2 separate regions of the Homo sapiens genome follow, and region 1 is linked to region 2. The links come from fine-mapping of genetic effects on gene expression. Tissue or cell type: sun-exposed skin. Region 2 holds a variant in brackets; the other region holds the start of a gene. All regions are shown on one strand. Distances are from middle to middle.

The links. PIP is the estimated chance that this variant, and not a neighbour inherited with it, causes the effect.
Region 1: it holds the start of MRPS7, and the variant in region 2 is fine-mapped to the expression of MRPS7 in sun-exposed skin (GTEx, PIP 0.98).

What each region holds. Positions count from the first base shown.
Region 1 is chr17:75,257,420-75,265,510 of GRCh38, reverse strand. It overlaps MRPS7 (mitochondrial ribosomal protein S7), which reads right to left and starts at 3,632. Exons shown (of 5, transcript NM_015971.4): 1 at 3,528-3,632; 2 at 2,823-3,014; 3 at 2,644-2,707; 4 at 2,004-2,171. The coding sequence starts at 3,610. It overlaps GGA3 (golgi associated, gamma adaptin ear containing, ARF binding protein 3), which reads left to right and starts at 3,905. Exons shown (of 17, transcript NM_138619.4): 1 at 3,905-3,963. The coding sequence starts at 3,924. RefSeq lists enhancers at 2,846-3,723, 3,520-3,929, 4,400-4,499.
Region 2 is chr17:75,464,402-75,472,500 of GRCh38, reverse strand. It overlaps TMEM94 (transmembrane protein 94), which reads right to left. Exons shown (of 32, transcript NM_014738.6): 2 at 572-701. The coding sequence starts at 595. Among named protein-coding and RNA genes, the nearest start is that of TMEM94, 12 kb to the right of the region's middle. RefSeq lists silencers at 185-274, 3,654-3,822. The variant G/A (reference allele first, on the strand shown) is at 4,143.

The DNA of each region.
Region 1 (8,091 bases), 210 kb after region 2:
GCGTTCATTCAGCAAATACTAATTAAGCACTGGCCTCTCCCGGCACTGTGGTTCACACCTGTAATCCCAGCACTTTGGGAGGCTGAGGCAGGAGGATCGCTTGAGCCCAGGAGTTCAAGACCAGCCTCGTCAATATAACAAGACCCTGTCTCCATATATTAAAAAAAAAAGAAGGCCAGGCACGATGGTTCACGCCTGTAATTCCAGCACTTTGGGAGGCTGAGGCAGGTGGATTACCTGAGGTCAGGATTTCGACACCAGCCTGGCCAATGTGGTGAAACCTCGTCTCTACTAAAATGCAAAAATTAGCTGGGCGTGGTGGCAGGCGCCTGTAATCCCAGCTACTTGGGAGGCTGAGGTAGAAATGCTTGAACCCAGGAGACGGAGGTTGCAGTGAGCCAAGAATGCACCACTGCACTCCAGCCTGGGCAACAGAGCGAGACTTCGTCTCAAAAAAAAAGAAAAAGAAAAAGAAGAAAAGCACTGGCCATTTTCCCTCCTAAATGGTAGTCCTACCAAGTTGTTATAAGAACCAAATAGGAAAAGCCCCATTAGCTGGGGTGACTAATCCACCTCAGACCATAGGTACCTAAAAACAAGACCCCTTCAGTCTTCAGACACAGCAAAACCCTGTCTCTACTAAAAATACAAAAAAATTAGCTGGGCATGGTGGCGGCCACCTGTAATCCCAGCTACTTGGGGTGGGCAGGGACTGAGACAGGAGAATCTCTTGAACCCGGGAGGCGGAGGCTGCAGTGAGCCGAGAGCTGAGATTACAGCACTGCACTCCAGTCTGGGCAACAAAAGCGAAACTCCATCTCAAAAAAAAAAAAAAAAGTTAAAAACAAAAAGACCCTATACAAACAGTTAAAGAAAACCAAAAACAAGACCCCGTGTCCAAAAATCATTTGTCAGGCCCTCACTATGCGTCAGTACCATGCCAGACACGAGAGTGCAGACAATAATGAAGTCCCTACCCCATGGAGTTGATATTGAAAAAGGAGAACACAAGAAAACTCAGGACAATAAAATATAATTAAATGCTATGAAAGAGATACCTAGTACTGTTCAGCAAACACTGATGAAGCATCAGTTATCGGTCAAGCACTATGCCAAACACTGGCATACAAAGACAGGATATGAATAGTCCCTCGCCATGAGAATTTTACAGGTTAGGACACACAGGATGCTTGACAGAAGAAGGCGAAGGGAGGTGGGCTCCCAGATGTCACTTAGATACTTCTTCACTCTCTTCCACCTTCTGCCTATAATTTTTACGCTACAGGACTCAGATGAGTGGACCGTAACAGTCTCAATTCTTTTTTTTTTTTTTTTTTTGAGATGGCGTCTTGCTCTGTTGCCAGGCTGGAGTGCGGTGGTGTGCTCTCGGCTCACTGCAACCTCTGCATCCTGGGTTCAAGCGATTCTCCTGCTTCAGCCTCCCAAGTAGCTGGGACTACTGGTATGTGCCACCACACCTGGCTAATTTTGTATTGTTAGTAGAAACAGGGTTTCTCCTTGTTGATCTCGAACTCCCCACCTCAGGTAATCCATCCACCTCGGCCTCCCAAAGTGCTGGGATTACAGGTGTGAGCCACCGTGCCCAGCCGTTTTTTTTTTTTTTTTTTCTGAGACAAGGTTTCTCTCTCTTGCCCAGGCTGGAATGCAGGGGCGTAATCATAACTCACTGCAGCCTTGACCTCCTGGACTCAAGTGATCCTCCTACCTCAGCCTCCTGAGTAGTTGGGAGCACAGATGCACACCACCACACCTGGCTAATTTTTTTGTTTTTTTTGTAGAGACGGGATCTCCCTATGTTGCCCTGCTGTCTCTTAACTCCTGAGCTCAAGCTATCCTGCATTAGGCTCCCAAAGTGCTGAGATTACAGGTGCAATCCCACTGCACCAGCTAGAAAGCTATCAATCTTGACCCAACTCCCAAGCACCACCTATCTTGTTTCACATGTGGAGGGCCCTGCTTTCTTGCCCTGGCCATTCATTCACCTGGTAGAAACGGCCTCCCTTGAGGATGGGTACCAGCCCAATCATAGGCTCACAGTTTTTCAGTGCTTGATGGAAGATGGTGTAGGGGTTGCGTTCGATGGTTGCCTGTTCCTCTGCAGAAGCGGCATGGTACTTCTCAAACTGCTTCCTTTTCACAGCTTCCAGAGTCTGCAAAAGAATATGGTGGAAGAGGCTGCCCCAGGCTCCCTAAAGGGTTTACCCAGCCAAGCTAGTACCTTGCCCTTTACTCCCATCCTCTGGTTCTGCGCTGGCAATGCAGCTCCTCTCACAGCACATCCAAAACAAAGTTTTTAAGTGCCTCCCCCTTTGCTAGACTAGGACAGAAAGAGTGGATTGAGATTTGTGGCATGGAGGGGGTGGGGGGTGAGGTGGGGAATGGCAGTTGTTTTATTTTTTATTTGTTCCTTTTTTTTTAATTGTGTGTTTACTTCCGAAACACCAAGGAATGGCAGTTGCTGACTCTTACAGGGCTTCATTAAAGCCCGTACACATGCAGGGAAGTTAATCTGAATAATAGATACATGAATCCATTTGCTCTTAAGCTACACTGAAAGTACCAAGTACAAGGCTACGGGGTAGGGGGGCAAGAAAGATGACTGAGGAGGGAAGTGCTGTTTACCTGAATCATGAGGGATCTGGCCAGTACTTTGTTTCCTCCTATCATCATCATGTTGGTGAATTTACTTCAAAGAGAAAAGCAACACGTTTAGCTCTCCAAGGCTGTATCACAGAATCCTCACCAGAAACCCTCCCTGGGATAGTCCCAGTCCATGTAACAAGTGTTTGTTTCCATCTAACCTGATGACTGGGTCTTCAAACACAGAACTTGTTTTCCCTGCTGGAGCAGCTTTGATGAGCTGAGTCTTCTTGAGCTCCCGAACATATTTCTCCTCCTCAGTTAGCTCCTCCACTGGCTTGCGATAATATTCCTTGTCAATCAAGGGATCCTTGAATTCAGGACTATAGCGGCTCCATCTCACCTGAGTTAGCCTGGGAGGGGGGGAAAGGAGGAGGCAGGCAAAAGCTGACTCCACAAGCGAGTAGGTTTGACTTAACAATAGGCATGACTGCCAACGCGCCGACGAGGGGGAGCGGCGCGGAGACCGCGAGCTAAACCTGAGCCACAACAATTCAGGCCCTTGTCCCAAGTAGGAGGACATTCCCCAAGCAGGCGGGTAAAGTCTCCTCCTGGTCAAGTGCTAACGGTAAGGATGGGCTTGGCGCCTACACACCCATCCCAATTCACAGGCGATCCCAGATCTGAGCTCTTTAGCTGAACCGCACTTTCAGCTCCGCGTTAGAACCCTAGATCAGCCAGACTCCTTAGGCGAGAGGTAGTCACTAAACCTTCGGATTGGCGCAGGGTCACGCAGCTAACTTAGAAGCTTGAATCCAGATACTCCGGCCCCCAGGGCAATGCTCTCTCTAGGGGCCCACGCGGCCTGCCTGTGGCCCCCTTCCTTCCTCGCAGCGCCCCCCCGCCGCTGCTCGCCACCCTCTCACCCTGGAAGCTGCAAGACAGCCCGCCGCACGCCCAACGCCAGGCCCGACCATCCTCGGGCAACCTTCACTGCGGGGGCAGCCATCTTGGCTGGCCACGAGGACCCCACAAGGACTGCCCTCGGCGCGCCTGAGCGAGTGACGGGAAACGGGTGAAAAAGACTCCTCAGGGTCCTAAATCTGCGTTTCTCTCCACTGATCTGGACGTTAGAGTTTTTCACTCCGGGGTCCAAAGGGGAGCGCCAAAAGGAAACCCTTGCCCTCCCTGTATCCGTCGCAGTCTGGCGCGGCCCTCGGTGACGGCACTCACTCCTCTCAGGACCCCATGCAGGCCCCGCCCCGTCTCAGCTCGTGCAGACTCTCGCGAGTTTTGAAGCCGCGGGGCCGGGCGGCTGCAATATGGCGGAGGCGGAAGGGGAAAGCCTGGAGTCCTGGCTCAGTGAGTAGCCGCGGCCGTTTCTGCCTGCCCTCGAGCCGCTGGGCTGCCCCTGTCTTCACCCCCACGTCCCCTCCCCGGGCTCCACGGCGTCGCCTCTTGGCAGCCCACGCCCGGTCTCGCCCTCGCCGCGAGCAGCCTGCGATCACGCCCCTTCCCTATCAGGGCGCCGGGCCCCAGTCCGGCCCCCGCTTCCCTCGCTGCGGCGCGTCCTCTTGCTCTGGCGCGCGGCGGCGTGAACTCGGGCTCCTGTCGGGCACCGCAGGCTCGGGGAAAGGCGACAGCCAAGATCTTCGGGCTGACATGCTTCGGCGCTTTGGGGAGATTGTGGTGGGGTCGCCGCCCGGCGGTGACACCAGGAACCCAGCGCCCCAATCCCTGACTAAGGGAGAAGCTTCGGATTGGGGCTGAGTCTCCGGTAGTGGTGGGTGCTGCCGACTGCGTTCAGTCGCCTGGCAGCTTCAGAATTGTGACCATGTGTTGGAGAAGTGACGGCTTCGCTCAGGCAGAATGCTTGAAGTGAGAATAATATTCCAAAGAGAGCGATGATAGAGAACAGAGAGCTCTACCTTTTTCCTGCAGTGACCACAGAAGCATGGTGAAATCGGTGTCGGGAATTCCCCCCCCACACACATACATATACCCCCTTGAATATCCTAACGAGTCAGTGTTGATAGCCTATTCTGAGTAAGGCTGAGGAGCACAGTCTGAAGCTGTAGTTATAGAAGCGTATTGCTGTCATTGCACTGTGAATTACAGTGCTACGAAGGAAATGTGTGTTAACCTGGTTAGCAGGTAGTACTCTGCCTGAGGGTTAATAAGTGAACTTTCCTGTAGGCTAGACCTGGAAGCCTCCTTTAAGTGGAGAGAGAAATTGGACTGGTAATGGGATAGGTGAGATACCTAGTATTGCCTTGTTCTGAGGTCTCTTATTTAGTACTGCTTCCGGGATCTTGGAGGTGATAGCTATTTCCTCAAATTGTCTGATTTTTCCTAGTAAGAAACCCCCTTCAGGAGGTTGAGCTTCAGTTTAAAGGGGAGCATATCCCAAAAGAGAGAAAAAGTAAGATCACGTTTGCAAAATCTGCAGTTGCAGGCAGGTCATAAGGCTTCTTTATATATGGAAGTGTTCTCCAAGGAGCTCAAAGTACTTTACAGATATTCATTAAATTAGTTTACCAAGTATTCTAGCAAAGCAGGCACTACTGCCATAATTTCACAAAAAGAGGACATCCTGACTCCAGTCAAACCACTTGCCCAGAAATGCCCAACTTGCTATAACCAGAGTGGAATTAGTTTGCTTTGAAGGTATTAATATGGGTATTGAATAATTTAAATGACCTAAGCTGAGTTTAATAGGCTACATTTAGAGTTACATTTTGTTTTTGTTACTTGTTTTTGAGACAGAGTCTCGCGCGCTGTTGTCTAGGCTGGAGTGCAGGGGTGCGATCATAGCTCACTGCAGCCTTGAACCCCTGTGCTCAAATAAGTCTTCTACCTCAGCCTCCTGAGTAGCTGGGACTATAGGCACACGCCACCATGCTTGGCTAATTCTTTTGATTTTTAGTAGAGATGAGGTCTTGCTGTGTTGCCCAGGATGGTCTCAAACTCGAGTTCAAGTGATCCTCCCACCTTTCCCTTACAAAGCGCTGGGATTACACACGTGAGCTACCGCACCCAGCCTAGAGTCACATTATGAAATGAGAGGGACACACTTGGTGGGGGGGAGTCACATGGTATCTGTAGAGACATAAGCTTCACAGTTGTTACGACTTAATGTGAACTGTACCAGTTGAACAAACCAGCAGTTGGGGTTCAGCATCGTCTCAGTCAGCGTCCTTGTCACCCCACGTTTGCCTGAATTGTTGCAGAAGCCTCTGCTTGGCCCAGAGACCCAGGTCTCTCCCGTCCTCACCTCTCCTCAGTCCATTCTGCTCCCAGAAGCGCACTTGTGTTGAATCAAATCATTCCACTGTTGCCTGTAATCTGGCCTTGGTTGTTCCAGGCCTTTTTCTCTGTGGCTTCTACGTTTTCCTGCTCTACTCAGTCTGATGTTCTTGGTTTACCAATACACGTTGCTCTCCTTACCTGGAAGCCCTGCTCCCGTTTCCTCAACTAAATGCTTGAAAACCCATCTCAGATTCTCTTTTCTCACAAACCATCTCTTGATGACTTCAGTCTTCTTTCAAGTCCCACCATGATCAATCAATCAATGTTTAATGAGTACCTGCTACGTGGGGTGTTATAGGAGTTAGGAAGTTTAAGAAGATTTTGCCTTTAGTTGGATGGAGGTGATGCTGGAGTGGATGAAGAACTCTCCTGTAATCCCAGCACGTTGGGAGGCCGAGGCGGGTGGATCACGAGGTCAGGAGATCGAGACCATCCTGGCTAACACAGTGAAACCCCGTCTCTACTAAAAAATACAAAAAAATAGCCAGGCGTAGTGGCGGGCGCCTGTAGTCCCAGCTACACGGGAGGCTGAGGCAGGAGAATGGTGTGAACCCGAGAGGTGGAGCTTGCAGTGAGCTGGGATTGTGCCACTGCACTCCAGCCTCGGTGACAGAGCGAGACTCCGTCTCCAAAAAAAAAAAAAAAAAAGATACAAGGCAGTGCTAAAACGCCGGCATTCTCTTTAGGGAACTGGGGATGGGGGAAGAGATGATTCATTGAGGATACTCCATTTGAGCTAGCCATTAAATAATGGGAAAAGTTGGAAAAAAAAAAACACTAGATGGTGATGTGGAGAGAGCAAACCTGTTTGGGGCACACAGTAACAGAGGTGTTTGGGAATGAGGGAAGATAAGGCTGGGAAGTTAAGACCAGATTCTACCAAGTCTCCAATTTCCAGCCCAAGAAGTTTATTTTATTTATTTATTTATTTGAGACAGAGTCTTGCACTGTCACCCAGGCTGGAATGCAGTGGCACAATCTCGGCTCACTGCAACTTCCGTTGCTTAGGTGCAAGCAATTCTCCATCCTCAGCCTCCCAAGTAGCTGGGACTACTGGTATGTGCCACTACACCTGGCTCATTTTTGTATTTTTAGTAGAGATGGGGTTTCACCATGTTGGCCAGGCTGTTGTCAAACTCTTGACCTCAAGTGAGCCACCTGCCTCAGCTCCCTCCAAAGTGTTGGGATTACAGGCTTGAGCTACCACGCCCAGCCCAGCCGAAGAAGTTTAAATTTCTGCAGTTATCAGGCCCTCATTCCTTCTGTACTAGGTGAAATCGGTGTTTTGGTGTCTTAAGAGGCTTGATTTGATATAGGTTTCATGCGCGTCCGTGTGAAGAGACTACCAAACAGGCTTTGTGTGAGCAACATGGCTGTTTATTTCACCTGGATGCAGGCAGGCTGAGTCCGAAAAGAGAGTCAGCAAAGGGTGGTGGATTATCATTAGTTCTTACAGGTTTTGGGATAGGCGGTGAAGTTAAGAGCAATGTTTTGCGGGCAGGGATGGATCTCACAAAGTACATTCTCAAGGGTGGGGAGAATTACGAAGAACCTTCTTAAGGGTGGGGGAGATTACAAAGTACATTGATCAGTTAGGGTGGGGCAGAAACAAATCACAATGGTGGAATGTCATCAGTTAAGGCTATTTTTACTTCTTTTGTGGATCTTCAGTTACGTCAGGCCATCTGGATGTGTACGTGCAAGTCATAGGGGATGCGATGGCTTGGCTTGGGCTCAGGCCTGACATTCCTGCCTTCTTATATTAATAAGAAAAATAAAACAAAATAGTGTTGAAGTGTTGGGGCAGCGAAAATTTTTGTGGGGTGGTATGGAGAGAGAATGGGCGATGTTTCTCAGGGCTGCTTCAAGTGGGATTAGGGGCGGCGTGGGAACCTAGAGTGGGAGAGATTAAGCCGAAGGGAGATCTTGTGGGGATGTTAGAAGAAACATTTGTCGTATAGAATGATTGGTGATGGCCTGGATATGGTTTTGTATGAATTGAAAAACTAAGTGGAATAAGAGAAGGAGAAAAACAGGTATAAAAGGTCTAAGAATTGGGAGGACCTAGGACATCTGATTAGAGAGTGCCTAAGGAGATTCAGCATAGTCCTGCCAGCAAAGATTATTTATTTACTTCAAGAGTTAAGAGTGGCAGTTTGGGGATAGCACGAGGAGATATCA
Region 2 (8,099 bases):
TGGGGCAGTCTTTGTCAAGGGAGAGGAGTTTTCTGATTGACAACTCTACCTCCATCCAAAGATAGTATACATGGAGGCTGGGCCAAACCAGGCTGGGAGGAGAAGACCAATCTTATGGCTGGCCCAGGCCACCTGGCTGCTCACCACCGGCTGATTAGGCAGCTGTGTTTGAAGTCTGATTGGGGCGCTCTTCTCTAACCACAGGGAGGTGCCCAATAGCCCTCAGCATGGCTCAGCAGGTTAGGACATCGCCCTAGCAAAGGGCAAACAAACTAAATTGCACACCCCTGGGCAAGAAGTGGAAGACTGGCTTGGAGCCAGCCTAAATCAGAAACCCTGCTCCCATGCGGTTGTGTTAATAGGTCCACCTTCATCCTTTATTCATAGCTCTGTGAGTCTGTGCTTTCCAGCCAAGAGGTCACAGTCGCATCCCCCAAGACTCAGAGCCTTGCCTCCTCTCTCAACTTTTGTTTAAAGCCCCCAGTTAAGGATCTCCCAGGCAAAAACAAGTAGGAAAGAGTTCAACAGAGACACACAGACAATACCTATAAGGTAATAGGATATGGCCTACCAGGTGCTTCTCCTTCAGGTCCATGGGCCAAGAGTACTGCAGGCATGCCCAGATGAATGTGGTCACCCCTGAAAGGAAGGCTCCTCCCCAGCATGTACAAACCCCAGTGAGTCTGTCACAGTCACAACATCTGGGGAAAAAGAAGAAAGAAATCACTCAGGTTGCTGGAACAGGCAGCTACTGTGAAACACAACAGCATCATTTTTTTTTTTTTTTGAGACGGAGTCTCACTCTGTCGCCCAGGCTGGAGTGCAGTGGCGCGATCTCGGCTCACTGCAAACTCTGTCTCCTGGGTTCAAGCGATTCTCTTGCTTCCGAGTAGCTGGGATGACAGGCGTGCATCACCATGCCCAGCTAATTTTGTATTTTTCAGTAGAGACAGGGTTTTGCCATGTTAGCCAGGCTGGTCTCAAACTCCTGACCTCAAGTGATCTGCCCGCCTCAGCCACCCAACATAATAGTATCATCTAAACCACAGTATGGTACGCGGAAAAGTACTGAACTCACTGACCATCAGACAGAGTCAGCCTCATCGAGCAGCAGAGCTTCCCCCAGGCAGTCAGCTCTAGATGAATTCCACTCTCTGAATCCAGGAGGGAGAGGGCTACAGAGAGGATTCTGGAGGGGTACAAACTTTCTCTCTTTCACCCTTCATTTTCTTTCTTTCTTTCTTTCTTTTTTTTTTTTTTTTGAGACGGATTCTCACTCTGTTGCCCAGGCTGGAGTGCTATGACCCGATCTTGGCTCATTGTTGCAACCTCCACCTCCTGGGTTCCAGCAATTCCCTGCTGCAGCCTCCCAAGTAGCTGGGATCACAGGCACTTGCCACCACGCCCGGCTAATTTTTGTATTTTTAGTAAAGACGGGGTTTCACCATATTGGCCAGGCTGGTCTTGAACTCCTGACCTTGTGATCCACCCGCCTCAGCCTCCCAAAGTGTTGGGATTACAGGCGTGAGCCACCGCGCCTGACCTTCATTTTCTTTATTATTATTATTATTATTATTATTTTGAGACAGAGTCTCGCTCTGTTGCCCAGGCTGGAGTGCAGTGGCGCAACCTTTGCTTACTGCAACCTCCACTTCCTGGGCTCAAGTGATTCTCCTGTCTCAGCCCCTCAAGTAGCTGGGATTACAGGCATGCACCAGCATCCCCGGCTAATTTTTGTACTTTTAGTTGAGACAGGGTTTCACCATGTTGGTCAGGCTGGACTTTTTTTTTTTTTTGAGACAGAGTCTCGCTCTGTCGCCCAGGCTGGAGTGCAGTGGCGCGATCTCGGCTCACTGCAAGCTCCACCTCCCGGGTTCACGCCATTCTCCTGCCTCAGCCTCCTGTGTAGCTGGGACTACAGGCGCCCGCCACCACGCCCGGCTAATTTTTTGTATTTTTAGTAGAGATGGGGTTTCACCGTGTTAGCCAGGATGGTCTCGATCTCCTGACCTCATGATCCGCCTGTCTTGGCCTCCCAAAGTGCTGGGATTACAGGCGTGAGCCACCATGCTCAGCCAGGCTGGTCTTGAACTCCTGACCTCAAGTGATCCACCTGCCTCGGCCTCTCAAAGTACTGGGATTACAAGCATGAGCCACCACGCCCAGCCTATTATTATTTTTTTTAATTTTGTGTGGAGAAGGGGTCTTGCTATGTTGCCCAGGTTGGTCTTGACCTCCTGGCCTCAAGCAATCCTCCCCACCTCAGCCTCTTAAAAGTTCTGGGACTACAGGCTACAGGCGTGAATCACTGTGCCCAGCCTCAACCTTCATTTTCAAAGGCACACTGTGTTTTGTTCCATATGTACTCTGTTTATCACTGAATTACAGCATGCAGGAAAAGCCTTGGTTTATTGGCTTTTTTTGTTTGAGACGGAGTTTCACTCTTATTGCCCAGGATGGAGCACAATGGCATGATCTCGGCTCACTGCAACCTCTGCCTCCTGGGTTCAAGCGATTCTCCTGCCTCAGACTCCTGAGTAGCTGGGATTACAGGCATGTGCCACCACGCCCAGCTAATTTTTGTATTTTTACTAGAGACGGGGTTTCACCATGTTGGTCAGGCTCGTCTCAAACTCCCGACCTCAGGTGATCCACCCACCTCGGCCTCCCAAAGGATTTATTGGCATTTTTATTTATTATCACTACTTCTTTGGTAGAGATGGGGTCTTGCTATGTTGCTCAGGCTGGTCATGAGCTCCTGACCTCAAGTGATCTGCCCGCCTCGGCTTCTCAAAGTGCTGAGATTTCAGGCATGAGCCACTACACCCAGTCAGCATTTTAAAAATTTAGGGTTAAGGCCGAGCACAGTGGCTCACGCCTGCAATCCCAGCACTTTGGGAGGCCGAGGCAGGCAGATCACTTGAGGTCAGGAGTTCCAGACCAGCCTGGCCAATATGATGAAACCCCATCTCTACTAAAAATACAAAAATTAGCCAGGCGTGGTGGTGGGCGCCTGTAATCCCAGCTACTCAGGAGGCTGAGGCAGGAGAATCACTTGAGCCTGGGAGGCAGAGGTTCCAGTGAGCTGAGATTGCGCCACTGCACTCCAGTCGGGCGACAAAGTGAGACTCGGTCTCAAAAAAAAAAAAAAAAAATTTAGGGTTAAGGTTAGCCTTAACATCAAGTGAAATCTAGATATGTAAGTTGGATAATAAGGGGGCAGCTGGGACAGCAGCAGGGTGGATGTCCACTGCATCCCCAGAACGAGGCACTGACTTCTTTCCACGTGCTGGCAGTCAGACGCCACACTCACCAGCATGTGCAAGCCCGCAGCCCCTCACGTGGTTGAGTGCAGTGCTCAACAGGCACCTGAGCAGATGAACACACGATGGGCAGCCCAATCTGACAACAGGTCCGACAAAAGCGGGCTGGTTACCTGGAAAATGAGGTTTGCCCTACCTCCCCACCTACCCTCACCAGCCCTCACCCTCCCGTCCTGGCAGCCGTCACTCTAATGATCTCAGACCAGGGTGTGTTTGAGTAAAGAGTGACACTGAGCAATCTGGTTTGATGCCAAGCGACTCCTCTTGGAGAAAGCACTAACCTACTGACTAAGACAGCTCTTTTGGGGGCCAGGAGCAAGCCTTGTCAAGGGGTGCCAGGCAGAAACCCAGAACTGACCCAGAAAAAAGCTGTCAAGAAATAATAAAAGCTGTGTCCGGAGGACCCAACCAGAAGGCCCAGGTTCTGCCACCAACTCCACTCCAAAACCCCGCCCAATTCCTCTCAAGGTGGCACCCATGCTGGTGCCCTAGGCTGAGCAACCACGTCTCTTCCACCCCTGCCTTTCAAAGCTGAGCCAGCCTCGAAGGCTCAGATACAGACAGTGACGCTGGAAGTGGCCTTGCAATGCAGTGACATTCAGTCTTTGGTCGCCAACTGAAATGGGATCCTGAGGGACCAAATCCACTCCTCCCCAAGGCCACTGTCTGACTCAGGCTGCCCCAGTCCTGCTTACGACTGCAGCTCAAGGTCCCCATGACACCCCATCCCAGCAGGGGCTGGATGAGATCGTTGCCACACAGGGAAAAACACCAGGAGCCAGATGGGGACTGTGCCTGTTAACTCCTTCTGCCAACGCT[G/A]CAAAGGCAAAATCACTCTGTGGCCAGCTGGAACCACAGCAGTACAGAGAGGGCAGCCAGGAACAGGACATTTTTCTAAGAGTCTCTGTTTTCCCATCATTCCATACATGGGATTCTGGGAGACAGCCATTCTTAACTGTCTGATCTGAAACCCGTAGCAGGGTCTTTAAAGGGCCAGTTCTGCTCCTAGCCCATTGTGAAAAAAAGCACAGGATTCAAAGCCAAATATCCCCGGGTTCAAATCCTAGCTCCAGTATGTCTCAAACGCCAATGACCTTGGCAAATTATTTGTCCCTCTGAGCCTCAGTGTCTTTGTTCATAGAATGGAAATGACAATATCTATTTCACAGAGGAGCTATAGAATTATGAAAAATAGTATATGCAGGGGGTCTAGTATAATATTTGACATATAGTAGGTACTCAATAAACAACTGCCATTACTATCAGCAGCAAGCAAAAAATATGAACCAAGTGCCACTTAGGTGAAGAATAAGGACTCAAAAGCAAGGTGGAAGAAAAAGAAATGGGGCCGGGCGCGGTGGCTCACGCCTGTAATCCCAGCACTTTGGGAGGCCGAGGCGGGTGGATCACGAGGTCAGGAGATCGAGACCATCCTGGCTAACAAGGTGAAACCCCGTCTCTACTAAAAATACAAAAAATTAGCCGGGCGCGGTGGCGGGCGCCTGTAGTCCCAGCTACTCGGGAGGCTGAGGCAGGAGAATGGCGTGAACCCGGGAAGCGGAGCTTGCAGTGAGCCGAGATTGCGCCACTGCAGTCCGCAGTCCGGCCTGGGCGACAGAGCGAGACTCCGTCTCAAAAAAAAAAAAAAAAAAAAAAAGAAAAAGAAATGGATGGCATAATGATGGGAAAAAATAAGTGAAACTGTCTTATTTGCAGAAGACAAGATCAATTGTATATGGAGAAAATATTAGGGACTCTACAAATAAGATACTAAAACAAATAAAGGTGCAAAGCTGCAGGATATAGGGTCAAAATACAAAATATAAATATATTTCTATATACTATAATCAAATATCAGAAAATAAAAATTTTAATATCATTTATAATAGTATAAAAACAGCATGGCTGGGTACGGTGGCTCACACCTGTAACCCCAGCACTTTGGGAGGCTGAGGTGGGTGGATCACCTGAGGACAGGAGTTCCAGACCAACCTGGACAACATGGTGAAACCCCATCTCTACTAAAAATACAAAAATTAGCCAGGCGTGGTTTTGGGTGCCTGTAATCCCAGCTGCTTGGGAGGCTGAGGCAGGAGAATCACTTGAACCCGGGAGGCAGAGGTTGCAGTGAGCCGAGATCACATCATTGCACTCCAGCCTGGGTGACAAGAACAAAACTCAGTCTCAAAAAAAAAAAAAAACCTTTAGAAATTATTCTAATAAAAATATATGTAAGACCTGTACACTGCTGAGAAAAATTAAAGAAGACTTAAATAAATGGGGAAATATACAATGTTCATGGATTGGAAGGCTCAGTATTAAGATGGCAATTATCCCCTAATTTATAGATTTAATACAATTTTTTTTTTCCCACTCCTGTTGCCCAGGCTGGAGTGCAATGGCACAATCTCAGCTCACTGCAACCTCTGCCTCCTGGGTTCAAGTGATTCTCCTGCCTCAGCCTCCCGAACAGCTGGGATTACAGGTGTCCACCACCATGGCCGGCTAATTTTTTGCATTTTTAGTAGAGACGGGGTTTCACCATGTTGGCCAGGCTGGTCTTGAACTCCTGACCCCAGGTGATCCCACCTGCCTCGGCCTCCCAAAGTGCTGGGATTACAGGCATGAGCCACCATGCCCAGCCTCTCAATACAATGTTAATGAAAGTCCCAGCTGGGACTTCCATAGAAATTGGCAAGCTGATTCTAAAATTTGTATGGAAAGATAAAGGACCAAGAATAGGCAAAACAATTTTGAAAAGAGAAACAAATTCTGAGGACTTACACTACCTGATTTGAAGATTTAACATACAGCTACAGTAATCAAAACATGTGGTACTGATACAAGGAGAGGCATACAAATCAATGGGACAGAACAGAGAGTCTAGCACTAGATTCACACATATTGACCCTTACTTCATACCATATACAAAAATTAACTTAAAATGCATCACACATCTAAACATAAAGGTTAAAACTATAATACTTCCAGAAGAAAATATGCAGGAGGGGTGGAGGCAGGAATCTTTATAACTTGGGATAAGCAAAGATTTCTTAAAACATAAAAAACATAAACTATAAAAGACAGCAACTTTAGCCAGGTCTGGTGGAGCACGCCTGTAGTCCTAACTACTTGTGAGGCTGAGGTAGGGGAATCACATGAGCCTAGGAGTTGAAGGTTACAGTGAACTATGATTGTGCCACTTCACTCCAGTCTAGGCAACAGAGTAAGATCCTGCCTCTAAAAAACAAACAAACAAATAAAAGAAAACAACTGATAAATTGTTCCATAAAAATAAAAAAAATTTCCACTCTTCAAAATATGCCATAAAAAAATTGACGTTGGGCACAGTGGTTCATGCCTATAATCCTAGCACTTTGGGAGGCTGAGGCAGACAGATCACTAGAGGCCAAGAGTTTGAGTCTAGCCTGAGCAACATACCAAAATCACGTCTCAAAAAGCAAAAGTAGTTTTGAAGTCTTTGGGATTAAAAAAAAATATATATATATATATATATATATAAAAATTCTTATAGCTCAGTAACAAGACCAACAACCCAATTTTAAAATGAGCAAAGATTTCAGCCAGGCATGTTGGCACACACCTGCAGTCTTAGCTACTTGGGAGGCTGAGGCAGGAGGATCACTTGAGCTCAAGAGTTGGAGGTTGCAGTGAGCCATGATCTCGCCACTGCACTCCAGCCTGGGCAACAAAGTGAGAACTTGTCTTAAAATAAATAAATAAATAATAAACAGGCAGAGATTTGAACAGACATTTCACAAGATATATAAACAGTCAATATGAATATGAAAAGATGGTCAACAACATTAATTATTGGGAAACAAAAATTAAAACCACAATGAGAAGGCCAGGCATGGTGGCTCACGCCTGTAATTTCAGCACTTTGGGAGGCTGACGGGGGAGGATGACTTGAGGCCAAGAGTTGGAGACTAGCCTGGGCAACATAGCAAGACCCTGTCTTACAAAAAAATTTAAAACCACAACGAGAGACCAATACACACCCATTAGAACGACTAAAATGAAAAAGACTGAGAATATGGCTGACGCAGGAGGATCTTGAGACCAGGAGTTCAAGGCTGCAGGGAGCTATGATCACGCCACTACACTCCAGCCTGGGAAACGGAGTGAGACCCTGTCTCTAACAACAACAACAAAAAGAGCCGGGTGCAGTGGCTCATGCCTGTAATCCCAGCACTTTGGGAAGCTGAGGTGGGTGGATCACCTGAGGTCGGGAGTTCAAGACCAGCCTGACCAACATGGAGAAACCCCATCTCCACTAAAAATACAAAAATCAGCCGACTGCACCTGTAGTCCCAGCTACTTGGGAGGCTGAGGCAGGAGAATCGCATGAACTCAGGAGGCGGAGGTTGCAGTGAGCTGAGATCATGCCATCGCACTCCATCCTGGGCAACAAGAGTGAAACTCCGTCTCAAGAAAGAAAGAAAAGAGGAAAGAAAGAAAGAAAGAAAGAAAGAAAGAAGGAAGGAAGGAAGGAAGGAAGGAAGGAAGGAAGGAAGGAAGGAAGGAAGGAAGGAAAGAAAGAAAGGAAGGAAAGAAAGAAAGAAAGAAAATGAAAAAATACACAGGGATAAGGGGCCAAAATGGAGAGGCTCTGAGGAGTCACTGAAGAGTCTGGGTTTCTGAGTAGGCCCCAGGTTTGTTTGTTTGTTTGTTTGAGACAAGGCCTCACCCTATTGCCCAGCCTGGAGTACAGTGGTGCGATCACAGCTCACTGTACCTCAACTTCCCAGGCTC